Linked DNA regions of Homo sapiens: region 2 is linked to region 1. Evidence: fine-mapped expression QTL. A gene starts in region 1. The other region holds a variant in brackets. All regions are shown on one strand. Distances are between the middles of the regions. Region 1 holds the start of FCSK (fucose kinase). Region 2 has its middle 51 kb from the start of IL34.

The links. PIP is the estimated chance that this variant, and not a neighbour inherited with it, causes the effect.
Region 2: its variant is the best candidate, but not a certain one, in a credible set for the expression of FCSK in sun-exposed skin (GTEx, PIP 0.77).

What each region holds. Positions count from the first base shown.
Region 1 is chr16:70,452,270-70,456,655 of GRCh38, reverse strand. It overlaps FCSK (fucose kinase), which reads right to left and starts at 2,061. Exons shown (of 24, transcript NM_145059.3): 1 at 2,026-2,061. It overlaps LOC124903708 (a long non-coding RNA gene), which reads left to right and starts at 2,120. Exons shown (of 2, transcript XR_007065104.1): 1 at 2,120-2,338; 2 at 3,189-3,619.
Region 2 is chr16:70,593,395-70,597,780 of GRCh38, reverse strand. It overlaps a transcript of IL34 not described here. Among named protein-coding and RNA genes, the nearest start is that of IL34, 51 kb to the left of the region's middle. The variant G/A (reference allele first, on the strand shown) is at 1,910.

The DNA.
Region 1 (4,386 bases):
GAAATACAATGTAAAGTATGTGGCACACACCAGTGGCTCAATGAATGATAATCCTTCCAGCCAGGCAAGGAAGCAGGAGAGTTTAACCTGTCCCTGAAGGAGGAAGGACTGGAAGCTCTCAAACATTCTCTGAGTTAAAGACTGTCCTGAAGAAGAAAAAAATCAGGGAAGGCCTCGGGAATCAAGCAAGGCTGAGGGACATCCCCTGAGAGATTAACAAAAAAGGTAAAATGATACAAGTAGCTAATACATATGGAGTGCTTTTTCAGGCACTATGGCAAAGGCACATCAGTGTCACTTCATATGACCCACCCAACAGTCCTAAGAATTGGTTCTTATCTCACTGAAGCTCTAGACAAGAAAACTGTAGTTTAAAAAGCAGAAACATAGCTATTAGGTTGGTGCAAAAGTAATTTTGGCTTTTGCCATTGCTTTAATAGCACAGGCAGGCTAGGCTTTTGTTTTGTTTTGTTTTGTTTTTGAGAAACAGGGTCCGGCTCTGTCACCAGAGGGCGGAACGCAGTGATGTGATCACAGCTCACTGCAGCCTCAAACTCCCGGGCTCCAGCGATCCTCCCATCCCAGCCTCCCAAGTAGCTGGGACTATGCATGAGTCCTGCTAGTTTTTTATTTTTTGTTGAGATGGGGCCTCCCTTTGTTGCCCAGGCTGACCTACAACTCCCGGACTCAAGTAATCCTCCCGCCTTGGCCTTCCTAAGTGTTGGGATTACAGGTGTAAGCCACCATGCCTGGCTTTTTTTTTTTTTGAGACAGTCTCCCTCTGTCGTCAGGCTGGAGTGCAATGGCGCGATCTCGGCTCACTGCAATCTCCGCCTCCCAGGTTAAAGTGATTCTCCTGCCTCAGCCTCCCAAGTAGCTGGGATTACAGACGTGCACCACCACGCCCAGCTAATTTTTGTATTATTAGTAGAGAGGGGGTTTTGCCATGTTGGCCACGCTGGTCTCAAACTCCTGACCATAGGTGATCTACCTGCTTCCGCCTCCCACAGTGCTGGGATTACAGGCGTGAGCCACCTCGCCCGGCCTTTTTTTTTTTTTTAATTAATAGTTTGCTGGAGTTACACAATCTCAAGAGGTCCTGAGAAAGTGTGCCCTAAGGCCCTAAGGTTCTTTTGTTGTTGTTGTTGTTGGTTTGTTTTGTTTTGTTTTTGAGACGTAGTCTCGCTCTGTCGCCCAGGGTGGAGTGCAGTGGCGTGATCTTGGCTCACTGCAACCTCCATCTCCTGAGTTCAAGCGATTCCCTCGCCTCAGCCTCCCAAGTAGCTGGGATTACAGGCATGAGCCTTGGCGCCCAGCCTCTACCCACTTTCAATACAGCCTCATCTGCTGAGATCAAGTTGAAATATTTTTTAGTGTCCTCAGCCCCACGCTGTCCAAGACTGGGATAGGGTTGGGGAGCCAGAGATAGAATAAAGTACTAAGAACTCTTCATATGAACCTTTTGAAGACAGGTGGGTCAGGGACTGCACATTTTAGAACTTTAAAGAGGAAAAAAAGGCTCACGGAGGACTCTGACTTGCTGCCTTCTAAATAACAGACCGAAAGAAGTTACTTGGGAGTAAAATCGTTTTGTAAATTACCCAAGAGCACATCATTGAGATTTGTGCATAATACTGAGCCCTGGCCGGGTAAACTGAGAGAGGAGAAGCGGCCTCAAAGTAAAATCAGAGCAGCGCCGGCATCCAGGGCCCCACCTGCCTCAGGGTGAGGATCCTCTGAGGCCCGCATCCCTCCCGGTCCCAGCTGCCAGCAGGTCCGGCCGCACCAGCCGGGTCGCGGGGCTCCCCTTGGAAGACCCAGGCCAAATGGACGCGGGAGCGTAGAAACACCTGTGGGCTCCCGGGGCACCGCAGAGCTCCCGGGGACTCTTCCCTGTCAGGACCCGGGCGGCCCGCGGGTCGACTCGGTGCTCCCAGTCAGGGAGGGTGCACCGGAAAGCTGAGGGGGCGCAAGGGGCGCAAGGGGCGCAAGGGGCGCTGCGGCGACCCTCGCGGACTGACGTACCTGCCGTCGCCCGGCGCTCGGCGGAGCGGGCTCTTTAACGCGAGGCTGCGCGACCCTCGCGGTGCACTCCGGGAAGTGTAGTTTCACCTCCGCGCCCCCCCAAGGCCGAGCCCCCGTCCGGCAAAAAACACGGTCGGAGCCACCGCATAGGCCAGCGTGGGTGGCCGGGGCAGCGCTTTCCTGAAGGGCAGCGGGGCTGCAATCCAGAAGGGAGATGGGAAGGGGGCCGCTCCAGGACCCACGAAACTACAACTCCCAGAGGACCGAAGCGCCTTAAAGACAGAGGCCCGTTTTCTGGGACTCCGGGATCCAGGTTAATAGGTTAATGTGTAGCTTTTTTGTTTGTTTTCTCGTTTGGGTTTTTTTTTTTTTTTTTTTTTAACACCTTCTGGACGGCACCAGGAGCTTCCGCTTTCCTCTGGAGAAAAATCCACTGATGGAGGAAAAAAAAAAATCACGCTTTGCCCAAGCGGAAGCAGCTGCCATTCGATTTGCAGTTGGAAAGGTTTGCGCTGGTTTCATCACGTGGATCCTTTGGGAAGAAACTTTCCAACTCCGTAATGGGGAGGGGATCTGCGGACCTTTTGGGAAAGTTGTGAATGGCAGCATTGATTGTCATAGATGACAATTGGAAATACTCTGAGTGTCTCTCTCTAGGTTACTATGTGAAAGGAAAATAAATCTCAGGACCCCAAAGTCACTAAGTCAAAGGGAAAAGTCAAGCTGAGAACTGCATCAGGGAAACCTACCTCCCATTTTATTCTTAAACAAGATAACTACAAAGATAAAAAAGCTAGATATGGCCTGGCCCTCACAACTTGCCCACTAGGAAATTCCTTGTGTGCCCCCAAATCTGTACCCTAAAACAGTTGTGTGGAATTTCAGTGACAATGTAAATTTATAGCTTATCTTCACAGGTGCTGGGCTTTGACAGCACTGAAAGTCATCTCTCAGCTCACCTGAGACAAATGCATATCTCATTGCTTCCTCTGCCCTATGTTTATTTTTTCTTATGTAAAAATGCATATTCACTGAGCTAGATGAATGCATAAGTGACTAGTCCTCTATCCCCCTCTAACATGTGAAAGGCTTATCAAAGACTCAGAAGAATGCAGCCATTTGCCTCTTACCTACCCATGCCTTTTAAAAATTTCCTCTTTCAGGCCAGGCACGGTGGCTCGCACCTGTAGTCCCAGCCCTTTGGTGAGGCCGAGGCGGGTGGATCATGAGGTCGGGAGTTGAAGACCAGCCTGGCCAATATGGTGAAACCCCGTCTACTAAAAATACAAAAATTAGCTGAGCGTGGTGGCGCGCACCTGTAGTCCCAGCAGCTTGGGAGGCTGAGGAAGGAGAATCGCTTGAACCCGGGAGGCAGAGGTTGCAGTGAGCTGAGATTGCACCACTGCACTCCAGCCTGGGCAACACAGTGAGGCCCTGTCTAAAAAAAAAAAAAAAATTCCTCTTTCCCCAATATCTGACCTTTCCCCTTTAAATATTGAAGCCCTCAAAATCATCTTTGGAGAAAGGTACAGACCTGTCTCCCAGGTGCACACATTCTTAACTTTGGCAAAATAAACTTGTAAATTGATTGAGACCAGTATCTGGTGCTTTTTGGTTTACAACTGGAAAACTAAACTAGGCACATCCATGCAAGACAGATGCTCTATATGTTCAGTAGGGAGTGATGTTCAGGACATCATGTTAAGGGAAAAGCAGCAAGTTGTAGAGCAATATGTATGGGAAGCCCCTCAAATAAAAAATAATGTTTATGGACAGATAGTGTGTGGATACACAGGAACAGGGCTGGAAGCGAACGCATGCTAGGGAGAGACTGCTAAGCATGGGGACAAGCGGGGAGAACTTGAGCTTTATCTGTATTGTTTGAATTTTTCTTACAAGAATGTACTTTCCAAATCTGTTGTTAATAAGGAGCCTAAAGCTGGGCACAGGTGCTCACGCCTGTAATCCCAACACTTTGGGAGGCCAAGGTGGGAGGATGGCTTGAGCTTGGGAGTTTGAGACCAGCCTGGGCAACATAGCAAGACCCCGTCTCTAAAATATATATAAATTAGGGCCGGACGAAGTGGCTCATGCCTGTAATCCCAGCACTCTGGGAGGCCAAGGCAGGCAGAAAACTCGGGGTCAGGAATTCAAGATGAGCCTGGCCAATTTTTTTGTTATTGTTGTTGTGAGACAGAGTCTCACTCTGTTGCCCAGGCTGGAGTACAGTGGTGTGATCTCGGCTCACTGCAACCTCCGCCTCCCAGGTTCAAGTGATTCTCTTGCCTCAGCCTCCTGAGTAGCTGGGATTACAAGCATGTGCCACCACGCCCAGCTAATTTTTGTATTTTTAGTAGAGAC
Region 2 (4,386 bases), 140 kb before region 1:
TATAAAGAATCAGCTCCTTGACAACAAAATGGATACCATTTAATAGATGCAGGGGCTAAAAAACACACTGCTTACATTTGTATAGAGTGTACATCATCATGTAAGAAAACACATTCTGCCTTTAGGAATTAAACAGCTGCATTTTGTAAGAGATACATATGTTTGAAACATGTTCATTGACAAAATACTCCAGTCTTTCTGGATTAGTCCTTACTTGGCAATTTGTAACAAGAACTAAAAAACTGGGCTAGAGGCAGTGGCTCACACTTATAACCCCAGCACTTTTAACCCTAGCACTTTGGGAGACCAAGGCAGAAGGATCACTTGAGCCCAGGAGTTCGATAACAGCCTGGGCAACATGGAGAGACCCCATCTCTACGAAAAAATTAATACTTGGCCAGGCATGGTGGCATGTGCCAGTGGTCCCAGCTACATGGGAGGCTGAGGCAGGAGTATCGCTTAAGCCCAGGAGCTCAAGGCTACAGGGAGCCATGATCGTGCCACTGGACTACAGCCTGGACAACAGAGCAAGACACTGTCTCCAAAAAAAAAAAAAGCTAAAAAACTGGCTGAACTCTGTGAGGGGGTAACTTCACTTTAGGAGATGGGCCCCTAGGAAATAAGGAAGTCAGTAATGGCCCAAAGCAGTGTCACTTGGGAACTACCCCAGAGCACAACGGAGGAGAAGGGGCTCAGTTCACTAGGAGGGTTAAGCAGCAGGCACCCACCTGAGCTGCTCAAGTGATCCACATACAAACAGGTTGAGCTGGGGACGGCCTCTACTGAGCGTGCCTATACCCTGGGTGCTGGGACCCTGTGGAGGCAATGGAGTATTATGGGTACAAGTACAGGTCTGGCTTCAGAGTCCCATCCTCCTCTGTAAAATGGAAATGAGGCTGGTCGCGGTGGCTCATGCCTGTAATCCCAGCACTTTGGGAGGCCAAGGGAAATCACTTGAGACCAGAAGTTTGAGACCAGCATGGGCAACATAGCCAGACCTTGTCTCTACAAAAAACCAATTTTTTTAATAAAGAGGGAATGAAATTTGCAGTCAGTGGTAAGCTACCATTACTATAAGCATGACACACACAGGCAATAGTCGCTCTACCCCCACTGCAACTGGGCACAAATATTTTTGGCAGGGTGTGGGGGACGGGTACAGAGAGGCATATGCGTGGCTTCAGGGGCTCCAGTTTCTGAGGCAGTGGTGGGAAATGGGATGCCAGTGTGCCCAACGCCATGTGGAAGACAGTCACCTCCAGCCTGGGAGGAAGACGTGGGGAGAAGTTGATTTGGCCCAGATCTGCCACTCAGATGCCTGCTTTGCAGCAACTCACGCTCCCTGGCTCCATATCACAGCCTGTCATGACCACGGTCCTCTTTGTGCCTCTGGAGATGCCCTAGCCACCTTTCCGGGCAGTCTTAGTCTTGGCATAAATAAATGCTGCTATGGTCTGAATATCTGTGTCTCCCCCAAAATTCATCACCTCAAGGTGAAGGTATTAGAAGGTGAAGTCTTTGGAAGATGATGAGGTCGTGATGGTGGGCCTTTTGAATGGATTTAGTGCCCTTATAAAAGAGACCCCAGAGAGATCCCTCACCCCTCCTGCCTCTGAGGCTACAGGGAAAAGACAGCCGCCTAGGACAAGGGCCCACACCAGACACCAAATCTGTCAGCGCCTTGATCTTGGTCTTCCCAGGCTCTAGAACAATACACTTCTGTTGTTTACAAGCCTCCCAGTCTATACAACTTTCTTTTTTTTTTTTTTTGAGACGGGGTCTCGCTGTGTCGCCCATGCTGGAGTGCAGTGGCACAATCTCAGCTCACTACAACCTCTGCCTCCCAAGTTCCAGCAATTCTCCTGTCTCAGCCTCCTGAGTAGCTGAGACTACAGGTGCACACCACCAC[G/A]CCCAGCTAATTTTTTATTTTTAGTAGAAATGGGGTTTCACCATGTTGGCCCAGCTGGTCTCGAACTCTTGACCTCAAGTAATCCATCTGTCTCGGCCTCCCAAAGTGCTGGGATTACAGGCATGAGCCACCACGCCCAGCCGGATTTTCTTATGGCAGCCCAAACAGACTAAGACAAATCCCATTTCTCCTGAGGTCAGCCAAACAAGGTTAGACTACTCCCCAGAAGAATGTTCCTACAAAATGAGAGAGGAGCCCTGGCGCAGTGGCTCATGTCTGTAATCCCAGCACTGTGGGAGGTTGAAGTGGGAGGATCACATGAGTCCAGGAGTTCAAGACCAGCCTGGGAAACAAAGTGAGAACCCATCACTATTAAAAATAAAAATTAGCAGGGCACAGTGGTGCACACCTGTGGTCCAGCTACACGAGAGGCTGAGGCAGGAGGATTAATTGAACCTAGGAGGTCAAGGCTGCAGTGAGTCATGTACTCCAGCCAGGGTGACAGAGTGAGATCCTGTCTCAGAAGAAGAAAAAGAAGGAGAAGGAATTAGAGGAGAAAGAAGAAGGAGAAGAAAACTAGAGAGGAAACAGAACTAAGAAATTGAAATGCAGGCCAGGCACGGTGGCTCACACCTGTAATCCCAGCACTTTGGGAGGCCGAGGTGGGCGGATCACCTGAGGTCAGGAGTTCCAGACCAGCCTGGCCAACATGGCAAAACCCCATCTCTACTAAAAATACCAGAAAAAAAATTAGTTGGGTGTGGTGGCGGGCGCCTGTTACCCCAGCTACTTGGGAGCCTGAGGCAGGAGAATTGCTTGAACCCTGGAGGCAGAGGTTGCAGTGAGCCGAGATCGCACCACTGCACTCCAGCCTGGGCGACAGAGGGAGACTCTGTCTCAGAAAAAAAAAAAAAAAGAGAGAGAGAGAGAGAGAGATAAATTGAAATGCAGCCACCTGGAAATATGAGGGTTTCCCAAGGCCTAGAATATTTGATATGAATCTGCCCAGAGTAGACTGGCAGCCTCCCAAAGCCTCCTCCTCACCTCCTCCTCATCTGTACCCACTGGCTTGGCAAGAAGCCCTCCCTTCCAAAACCTGTTTCCTCTGGCCTTGAGCAGTAGCAGCCCTGCCCCTAGATCTTGGCAGGACCAGTGTGTTCTGCTTGAGCTCTTGAAGAGGAAGAGAGTCCTCCCCAGAAAGTCCTCTTTGGGCCCTTGACCCTCCCTCAGAGATAATAAGACCTGCCAGGCAGAATTCTTGTGAGGATTAGATATTGAGCTTGAATTAGATTAGAGCTTGAATATACACATACAATCTTTGGAAGGACCCATAAGAACCAGGCATCAGTAACTGTCTTTGGATAGATGAATGGAGGCCTAGGGAATGAGAAGTAGAGGAAGCCACTTTTCACTATAAACCAATCTCTCTCTATTGAATGTTTTTACTGTATGCACATATTACCTATTTGAAATTGAAAGCACAATGCCATTTATATTAGCACCCTAAAAATAAAATTCTTCACTATAAATCTAACAAAATATGTACAAGATCTGTATGAGGAGTACTATACAACCCTGATGAAAGAAAGCAAAGATCTAAATAAATGGAGAGATATTCCATGTTCATGGATAGGATGATTCAATATTGTTAAGATGGTTGTTCTCCCCAACTTTGTAGATTCAATGCAACACAATAAAAATCCCAGAAAGTTATTTTGTAATATCTACAAGTTGATTCTAAAGTTTACACAGAGTAGCAAAAGACCTAGAAGGACAACACAAAAAAGAAGAATGGAATTAGAGAACTGACACTCCCTGACTTCAAGACTTACTTAAAGCTATAGCAATCAAGATAGTGTGGTATTGGTGAAAGAACAGACAAATAGATCAGTGGAACAATAGGGAACCAAGAATAGACTCACACAAATATAGTCAACTGATCTTTGACAAAGGAGCAAAGGCAATTCAATGGAAAAAGGATAGTCTTTCCAACAAATGGTGCTGGAATGATTGATCATCCACCTGCAAGAAAAAAATCTAGATATTGCCAGGTACACTAGCTCACACCTCTGATCCTAGTGCTCCAAGAAGCTAAAGCAGGAGGATTGCTTGAGGGCAGGAGTCTGAGATCAGGCTGGGCAACACAGCAAGACCCCATCACCACAAAAAAAGAAAAAATACAAAAAAAATAGCCCAGCATGGTGGCATGCACCTGTAGTCCCAGCTACTCGGGAGGCTGAGGTGGGAGGATCACTTGAGCCCAGAGTTCAAGACTGCTATGAGCCACAATCATGCCACTGCACTCCAGCCTTGACAACAGAGTGAGATCCTGTCTCAAAAAATAACAACAACAACAACAAACTAGGTACTAAGAAATCTTGATTCTAAGGTCTGACCTTAGACCTTAGACCTTTCACAAAAATTTATTCAAAATGAAACTTGAACCTAAACATAAAATGCAAAACTATAAAACTTCT